Regions from separate parts of the Homo sapiens genome. Here region 1 is reported to be linked to region 2. Evidence: microRNA targets listed by miRTarBase, many of them from high-throughput screens and not tested one by one. Region 2 holds a microRNA gene; the other region holds the end of a gene's coding sequence.
Evidence for each region. The annotated mature microRNA hsa-miR-186-3p reads GCCCAAAGGUGAAUUUUUUGGG and lies in region 2 at 1,553-1,574, shown strand. An mRNA with a match to its seed (bases 2 to 7 or 8) in the 3' UTR can be bound and repressed. Matches are read on the target gene's strand: a 7mer-m8 pairs with bases 2 to 8, a 7mer-A1 pairs with bases 2 to 7 and ends in A, and an 8mer does both.

Region 1: miRTarBase lists PRIM1 as a target of hsa-miR-186-3p. The part of its 3' UTR that is shown has no 7-base or 8-base seed match.

The regions. Positions count from the first base shown.
Region 1 is chr12:56,728,309-56,732,706 of GRCh38, forward strand. It overlaps PRIM1 (DNA primase subunit 1), which reads right to left. Exons shown (of 13, transcript NM_000946.3): 13 at 3,272-3,426. The coding sequence ends at 3,407. Among named protein-coding and RNA genes, the nearest start is that of NACA, 5.2 kb to the left of the region's middle.
Region 2 is chr1:71,064,850-71,069,215 of GRCh38, reverse strand. MIR186 (microRNA 186) reads left to right here and starts at 1,500; the gene lies at 1,500-1,585. It overlaps ZRANB2 (zinc finger RANBP2-type containing 2), which reads left to right. Exons shown (of 10, transcript NM_203350.3): 9 at 2,282-2,440; 10 at 4,079-4,366. The coding sequence ends at 4,142. ZRANB2-AS1 (ZRANB2 antisense RNA 1) reads right to left here. Exons shown (of 3, transcript NR_038420.1): 3 at 2,032-2,450. RefSeq lists a silencer at 664-713.

The DNA.
Region 1 (4,398 bases), not on the chromosome of region 2:
ATTATGGCTCACTGCAGCCTCCGCCTCCTGGGCATAAACGATTCTCCCACCTCAGCCTCCCGAGTAGCTGGAACTACAGGCACACAACACCACACCCAGTTAATTTTTGTATTTTTTGTAGAGACGGGGTTTTGCCATGTTGCCCAGGCTGGTCTTGAACTCCTGGCCTCAAGTGATCTGCCCACTCTGCCTCCTAAAATGCTGGGATTACAGGTGTGAGCCACCACACCCGGCTAGCGTGTTTCTTAAGTTGGCAATTTTGAAGATAGAAGCCATTTCTTTGCCCCTTTGTTTCTACAGTTCTAATATGTGACTGAATTGGCAAATCAAGAAAAGGGGAAGTCAGTAGTCCTTGGGTATATTTTTGCTGTCTTTAAGAACTAAACATTGGCTGGGCGCCGTGGCTCACACCTGTAATCTCAGCAGTTTGGGAGGCCAAGGCAGGTGAACTGCTTAACTCAGGAATTAGAGACCAGCCTGGGTAAGATGGCAAGACCCCGTCTCCACAACAAAATAAAACGTAAGCCTGGCAAGGTGGCGCATATCTGTAGTCCCAGCTACTCCAGAAGCTGAGGCACGAGGATCCCTTGAGCCCAGGAGTTAAGGCACTTCAATGCTAGACATATTTATAAAATGATAATGAAAGCTGAAAATGTCTCTTTTTGAGGCCGGGCGTGGTGGCTCACGCCTGTAATCCCAGCACTTTGGGAGGCCGAGGCGGGTGGATCACGAGGTCAGGAGATCGAGACCATCCTGGCTAACACGGTGAAACCCCATCTCTACTAAAAATACAAAAAATTAGCTGGGCATGATGGCACGCACCTGTAATCCCAGCTACTCACGAGGCTGAGACAGGAGAATGGCGCGAACCTGGGAGGTGGAGTTTGTAGTGAGCCGAGATGGCGCCACTGCACTCTAGCCTGGGCCACAGAGTGAGACTCCGTCTCAAAAAAAAAAAAAAAAAAAAAAGTCTCTTTTTAAAAGCATACCAGTCTTTCCACTCTCCTTCTGAGTTCTTTACTGATTAGTTCTGGAATAATGAGTCTCTAGTAATTTTGTATTCAGGAGTTTTAATCGACCCACTGTTTCTAGAACCTGAAGACTTAATAACCTATAGTACACATAAGCTCAAATAATGAAGAGTTTTTGGGCCAGGTGAGGTGGCTCACACCTGGGAGGCCAAGGCAGGTGGATTGCCCAAGCTCAGGAGTTCGACACCAGCCTGGGCAACATGGTGAAAACCTGTCTCTACTAAAAATACAAAAAATCAGCTGGGCGTGGCGGCGTGCACCTGCAGTCCCAGCTACTCGGGAAGCTGAGGCAGGAGAATCGCTTGAACCTGGGAGGTGGAGGTTGCAGGGAGGCGGATTGCTCCACTGCACTCCAGCCTAGATGACAGAGTGAGACTCTGGCTCAAAAACAAACAAATAAACAAACGAAAAAACCAAACAACGAGGAATTTTCCTTTTTTTGAGACGGAGTTTCACTCTTATTGCCCAGGCTGGAGTGCAATGGTGCAATCTCGGCTCACTGCAACCTCTGCCTCCCGGGTTCAAGTGGCTGGGATTATAGGCGTGCATCACCAGGTCTGTATTTTTAGTAGAGACAGAGTTTCACCATGCTGGTCAGGCTGGTCTGAAATTCCTGACCTCAAGTGATCTACCTGCCTCGGCCTCCCAAAGTGCTGGGATTATAGGTGTGAGCCACTGCACCCAGCAGGAATTTTCTTAAAATATAGGTCAAGGAATCAATGTGTTGACTGCATTATAGAGTCTGTTTCATATAAACCAGAAGATAAGAAAAGATTGATTGTAGAGGAAACAATGTTAAAGGAAATGCAAAGGAAGGAAAATTTTCATTGTCATTAAAAGCACCAGCCTGACAGCTTGCTTCTCAATGTTTCTCGGAAGACAGAATATAAACTAGAATGACTGTTTTGTTTAGATTAGTTGTAAAACAGGGCAAGAGAAATCGGACATATTAGAACCCATCTCACAAAATCAAACTTTAAAAACTGAAGTACCTAGATACATAAAAAGTCCCAAGTATTTTCACAAGTTTAATACGTTTTATTTATTTTATAATTTTTATTTATGTTGCCCAGGATGGAGTGCAGTGGCGTGATCTCAGCTCACTGTAACCTCCACCTCATGGGTTCAGGTGATTCTCTTGCCTCAGCCTTCTTAGTAGCTGGGATTACAGGTGCCCGCCACCACACCTGGCTAATTTTCTTGTATTTTTAGTGGAGACCGGGTTTCACCATGTTGGCCAGGCTGGCCTTGAACTCCTGGCCTCAGTCGGGTGTGGTGGCTCACACCTGTAATCCCAGCACTTTGGGAGGCTGAGACAGGCAGATCACAAGGTCAGGAGATCGAGACCATCCTGGCTAACATAGTGAAACCCCGTCTCTACTAAAAATACAAAAAAAATTAGCTGGGCGTGGTGGCGGGCACCTGTAGTCTCAGCTATTTGGGAGGCTGAGGCAGGAGAATGGCATGAGCCTGGCAGGCAGAGCTTGCAGTGAGCTAAGATCGTGCCACTGCACTCCAGCCTGGGTGACAGAGCAAGACTCTGTCTCAAAAAAAAAAAAAAAAAAAAAAGAACTCCTGGCCTCAGGTGATCTGCCTGTCTTGGCCTCCCAAAGTGTTGGGATTACAGGTATGAGCCACTGTGCCTGGCCCTCTAGATATAATTAAATGTCTAAAACTTAAGGACAAAACCATCATTCACCCAAACATATGACGTATCAAGTGAGCTGAGATGACAGTCCTATTACTGCTCACTTACCTCTATATATGGCAACTAGTAGAACTGGGTATTTATATCAGAAGCCTTAGAATTATCCTTGTAGAATATTGAATTTTACAAAATTATCTGCAATCCACTTATGCCTCCTTTTATTTCTCCTTCCAGGAACCTTGACACTCTCCTTGGTCGTCTCAGGAAATCTTACTTTTTTTTTTGTTTTGTTTCTTTTTTGAGATGGAGTCTCGCTCTGTCGCCCAGTGGCTGTGATCTCAGCTCACTGCAACCTCTGCCTCCTGGGTTCAAGCAATTCTCCTGCCTCAGCCTCCCAAGTAGCTAGGATTACTGTATGCACCACCACACCCGACTGATTTTTGTAGTTTTAGTAGAGACGGGGGTTTCACCATGTTGGCCAGGCTAGTCTCGAACTACTGACCTCAGGTGATCCGCCTGCCTCGGCCTCCCAAAGTGCTGGGATTACGGGTGTGAGCCACTGCACTTGGCCAGGAAATCTTTTCAACATAAATTATTTCTCAAGGAAAATTTACTTTGAGGTTTAAGACACATATATAGTTCTGCCATATTTATTAAATGGCTCTTGAAGTATTTGATCTGTGGTTGAAGGCAGAAGATATCCACAATGGTTTGAGGAGCTCTGTCTTCAGAAATCTTTTTGTAAATCTAAAATAGAATAGATAATATATGGAAGAACAGCAAAGGAAACAAAACAAAGCCCATTTACTTTTACATTCTTTTTTGCCTAATGCTTCTATTTAACACACATCATGCACAAAGATTTGCTTACACATTTGCTGAAGTCCACATCATAGGCTGAGCTAGTATGGAACAGTGAGGATACAAAGGACTTAATACGGCCAGTTGCAATGGCAGCTTCAACCAGGCTTTCCAAGCTCAGAGTTGTTGTTCATCCAATAATCACACATATGAGTGTCTACTGAGTAGAGCATTATCTTAGGCACTACTGCTTAAACTATCACATATTTAAATAAAAAATGAAGTGGCAAGATAATTTGTATTGCTATAACATTGTCACAGTTTTCTAGAGTAGCCTTCATCTCTTGAATAATATTCAATCTGCTGATTTTTTTCATATTGGCTTATACATATGCTCATATGTCTCCCATTTAGAGTACCCTTCATTTGACACTGCTATCCTCTTTGTGTTTCTTTCCAGTTATTATATGCAGCAGGATTTTATTAGTTTCCTACTGTACCTGACACTTGATAATCTTGCACTTTTCTTTCCCCTGGCTTCTATAACATTTTCCCTTCCATCTTTCATCTCTTCACTTCTAAATCATTAGCAAGTCTCAAGGATGGTTCCAGTATTTGCACCTTTCGGAGATCTCCAGTGCTACTGTTCTAGTGGCAATAGCGCAGTTGGCCTCTTGGGCTCTATTCTAGTCCCTGTCTTGCCCAGATTTATCTTTCTAGATAAAAACTACAAATCATGGCATTCCCTTCCTCAGAACTTTTAAAAGCTTCCTATTAAGCCCAAAACCAAGCCCAAACACATAAGCTTGGAATTCAAGGCCATTCAGTTTGCTTCTTTGGATTTATAGCCCATCACTTCTGGACACACCATATACTAGATTAGCTGTACTACTTGATGGCTTCCAGAGTAACTGGATG
Region 2 (4,366 bases):
TGTTGCTGCTTTTTTTCCCCTTATTTTGCTTCTACTTGTCGATTTTATTTTAGCATTAGAAAACTAATGCACTTGCCTCAGCTTAATTTTCTCACCATGAAATGTTTCCATTGCCAGCAGTGTGCCAAGACATTCCCATGATTGAAATCAGGTGGCTATTTTGCAATATGCAGCGTTTATTATTTTGGCACTAAGATGTTATGAAGTAGGAAGATGAAGCCAAGTCTTATCGCCACATCTCTAGTATATTAAGATTATATATGGCCAGGCACAGTGATTCATGCCTATAATCCCAGCACTTTGGGAAGCTGAGGTGGGAGGATCACTTGAGGCCAGGAGTTCAAGGTTGTAGTGAACCTTGATCACAGCACTGTAATCCAGCCTGGGTGACAGAGGAGTGTCTCAAAAAAAAAAAAAATTAATAGTAGTTCAAATAAAATTACATATGTAAATAAAAAGAAAAATTTTCTTCATTATTAAAAGGAAGAAAAATAACCCTGCCTCAAAACAGGTCCTGTTTTGCACGGCAGTTGTTTCAATATTTTCAGAAACAAATTTGCCATTTATATCAGATAAAGTTACTAGAGTACTGTATATACATTTTCCTTTCTAATTTTACACACGCTATTATTTATAGAGCACAAAACACTCAAAACTAAATCAGGAAGTATAGTCGGTTAGTTGAGATAGGATGTGGTCTTAAGTAGTAAACAGTGTTCTAAAGTTTCAGGTTGCATGTAGTCACATCTGTAGAGGGAAACATAATTTGAAAGATGCTCTTGCAGGAAATTTTTCTTTGTTTAGTCAAAATATGCTCTCTTTGTTTTTAAGTTAATTTATTATGACCTAAAGGCATCTAAAAAATAAATAAGAAAATGAAATTCCATATTTGTGGAAATTCATATTGAAGTCTAACTGTGGCTGTTTTGGTAAAAGTATTTGCTGCTTTGAATCAAATTTAGCATTAAAGGGCTGCCACAGTATAATCATGTTAAGGAGAAAAGAATGTTGTGCACACTTGCATTATAAGCCAATAAGAAATAGATAACAAGGCCAGGCTCAGTGGCTCACGCCTGTAATCCCAATACCTTGGGAGGCCAAGGTGGGCGGGCTGCTTGAGCCCAGGAGTTCAAGACCAGCCTGGGCAATATAGTGAGACCTCGTCTACTAAAAATAAAAATTAAAACAACCAGCCAGGCATGGTGGTGTGTTCTTATAGGCTGAGGTGGAAGGATCACTGGAGCCCTGGAGATTAAGGGTGCAGTGAGCCATGCTTATGCTACTGCACCACAGCCTGGGGAACAGAGCAAGATCCTGTCTCAAAAAAAAAAAAAAAAATAGAAGTAGAGAGCAAATTATTTTTTATTGTTACCATTATTTAGTAACAATATTTAAGCGCTTTATAGGTAAAAATCCTTAAGTTCTGGTATTCCCTTTGGGAACCATTATAATTAAGGTTTACAGAACACCCATCATATTCTTCCCAAACATTTTTTCATTGCTTGTAACTTTCCAAAGAATTCTCCTTTTGGGCTTTCTGGTTTTATTTTAAGCCCAAAGGTGAATTTTTTGGGAAGTTTGAGCTAAATTCCTTCAACCAAAATATACAAGTGAAGAAAAAAAATTTGTATTTAAACATTTGCACATTTACTTCTACCTGAAGCATGTGAATGTCAACACTTCATATTTCATAAGTAGTGGGTTTTCATAAAAATAGTATTGTAAATATAAATCATCTTAAAGTTAGTTTTTATTTCTTCTTGAATATTTAGCAGTTAAGTACAGTTACTAGTCTTTTGTTGCTGTGCCATATACCTGGTTTTTCCATAACAGTTTAATGAGTTGAATAATTCCACATGGAATTATGTTTATTTTCCTCAGGAAGTGGTATATAAGATACATATTTTAATCCTCAAATGGAAGGATGTAGTTCCTAAACGTAAAGTCCTGTTAATGCAGTTATCTGCTGATTTTATAATACTATAATATTTGTGTATACTTTGAAAAGCCTTAAAAAAAGTTTAAATTCTATTTTGATATAGTAAGCAGGGTTTTAATTACACATGATAGAATTTTAAAGAGACAAAATTAAAATGTTTAAGTAGAATGTTTTCATGGTTGATCCAGAAGTCTTCTGTTGAATAAGCAGTAAGTATTCTTCCTTATAAAATTTTCATAGTTGTTATAAATCCTGTTTATTTTTGGAGCTATCTGATAACTAAATAATCTTCCTTATTTCTTCTTTTAATGAAATGTTTGATTTGTTTCTCAATCAATGAAGATCCAGCTCCAGGTCCCACAGGGGCTCTTCTTCCCCACGAAAAAGATCTTATTCAAGTTCATCATCTTCTCCTGAGAGGAACAGAAAGAGAAGTCGTTCTAGATCTTCTTCATCTGGTGATCGCAAAAAAAGACGAACAAGATCACGGTCACCCGAAAGGTTTGGGTTTCTGTAGAAATAAGAATGGGTGTTCTTAAGTGTGTTTAATAGATAAAGTAAACTTTCCTAGTCAAGGGTTAGATTTTTATTATCTCTTGTGTTCCGACTTTCTACTTTTCAACTTTGAACTTCAAAAAAACATTACTTTGCTTATCCTTTGTACTTTGATCAGGTTGTTTAGAATTGTAGATCAAACCATTCTTTGATCATTTTATTGTTTAAATTTTTAGTTCCATTTATAATTTTTATAGCCAACTCTCGGTTATTTCTGTCTTTTGAGATTGCAATTCAGAAGCTGTATGTCGAAGTAATTTATGAGTTGACTTTTATACTTAGGCTTCTTTAAATACTAATAGTCAAGAATTCTAGAGCATCTAATAAAAAATTAACTTTCAGATCATTGGGAATCTGTCCTCATTTAAATATGTGTAAATGCATTTCCACAGCAAATTGCTTCATGCCCTTTGTCTATAAGGAAATTATTCCTTGTAGCTAATACATTTTTCATTTTGCAGTCCAAATCTTTTTTGAGAAAGGCCTATATTAGGTTACTTTATCTGTACTGACACTTTTAATATTGGAAGAATGCAACTGTCATCTGTCAGCCTTTTCTGCAACAGGCTAATTACTCAGTTTCATTAATTTTCTCTTTGTTCCCAATTATATAGTCATTTTAATGGCTTTATTTGTAGTCTTTGCAAATTTTTCATATTTTATTAGCTTGTGAAAATAAAGATTATGTAAAGTCTATTAATTGCTGGGTTCAGTGGTAGGATTATCTCATGATTCCTACTTGTACAGAATGATTAGTTTTGCTTCTTCACATTTTGGAGTTTAGATGTTAAGATTTCACACAGTCTTGTTTCTCTGCATTTGTTTCTTTGTAAAAAAAATTACTCTGTTTTTGAGTGGAATTCATTCTGTTGCTTTCTTACCACTTCTGCAAATTTTTATCTTAGCCACATATAATCCCCCTAGTTTGTTGTCATCTAAACTTAATGAACATGTTCTCTATTCCATAAGCCAGGTGATTGGTGAAAACACTAAACAACCCTGAGCCCAGGGCCAACCCCTACGGAACACCACTACTTTACCCAGGTTGATATTGACTTATTCATACTAGCTGCATGAATATAACCCTATAGCAAATTGTACAATCATCTTGTGTGACCTAGATTTCCAAAACTTATTTATGAGTATATTTTCTCATACACAGAAGCCTTGCTGTATCTTTTTTACATAATAGACTTCTTACACTTTCTACACCGTGTCACAGGGATTGGTTTAGTCACACTTCCATTACCAAGTTTATATGCTTTTGTTGTACATTTTCTGTAATTTTACACATTTTTGCAAGGCTTTTCTTTGATATCTTAAATAATTGAGAGGTGGCTATATTTTGAAATGAGATTCTTTTGAAATTGTAGAGAATTTTTTATTGTATTTATATGATAACTGGGCTCATATCCAAAGTCTAAACATCAGATAATTTTATGTGTGTAAGTTCCTATCTCAATTTTTAATTTTTTTGCTAGCATCATGGTACTGAATTTTGTATACTTTCACAGTCTTAAGAATGAATGCTGAGATTTAGCTCTAGCTTACTAGAATGCCTACTCTCTCCATTATGTCTTACAGACGCCACAGGTCATCATCTGGATCATCCCATTCTGGTTCCCGTTCAAGTTCAAAAAAGAAATAATGTATTAAAATTTACATCTTAAAAAAATCCAGTACAGTGCATGAAGCATATTTTTAAAGAAGTTGGTGTCTTACTTGGTCAGAAGTGCTAAATCTGCTAGTAGAGGTGCATGCCTTTCATTGCTTTTCAAAACAATACAGCTGTGTTTATTTGTGAAGTTAAAAGTAAATAGCATTTTAAGCCATAATGTCCCAAAATAGATGTTCTGTCATTCATTATTTACA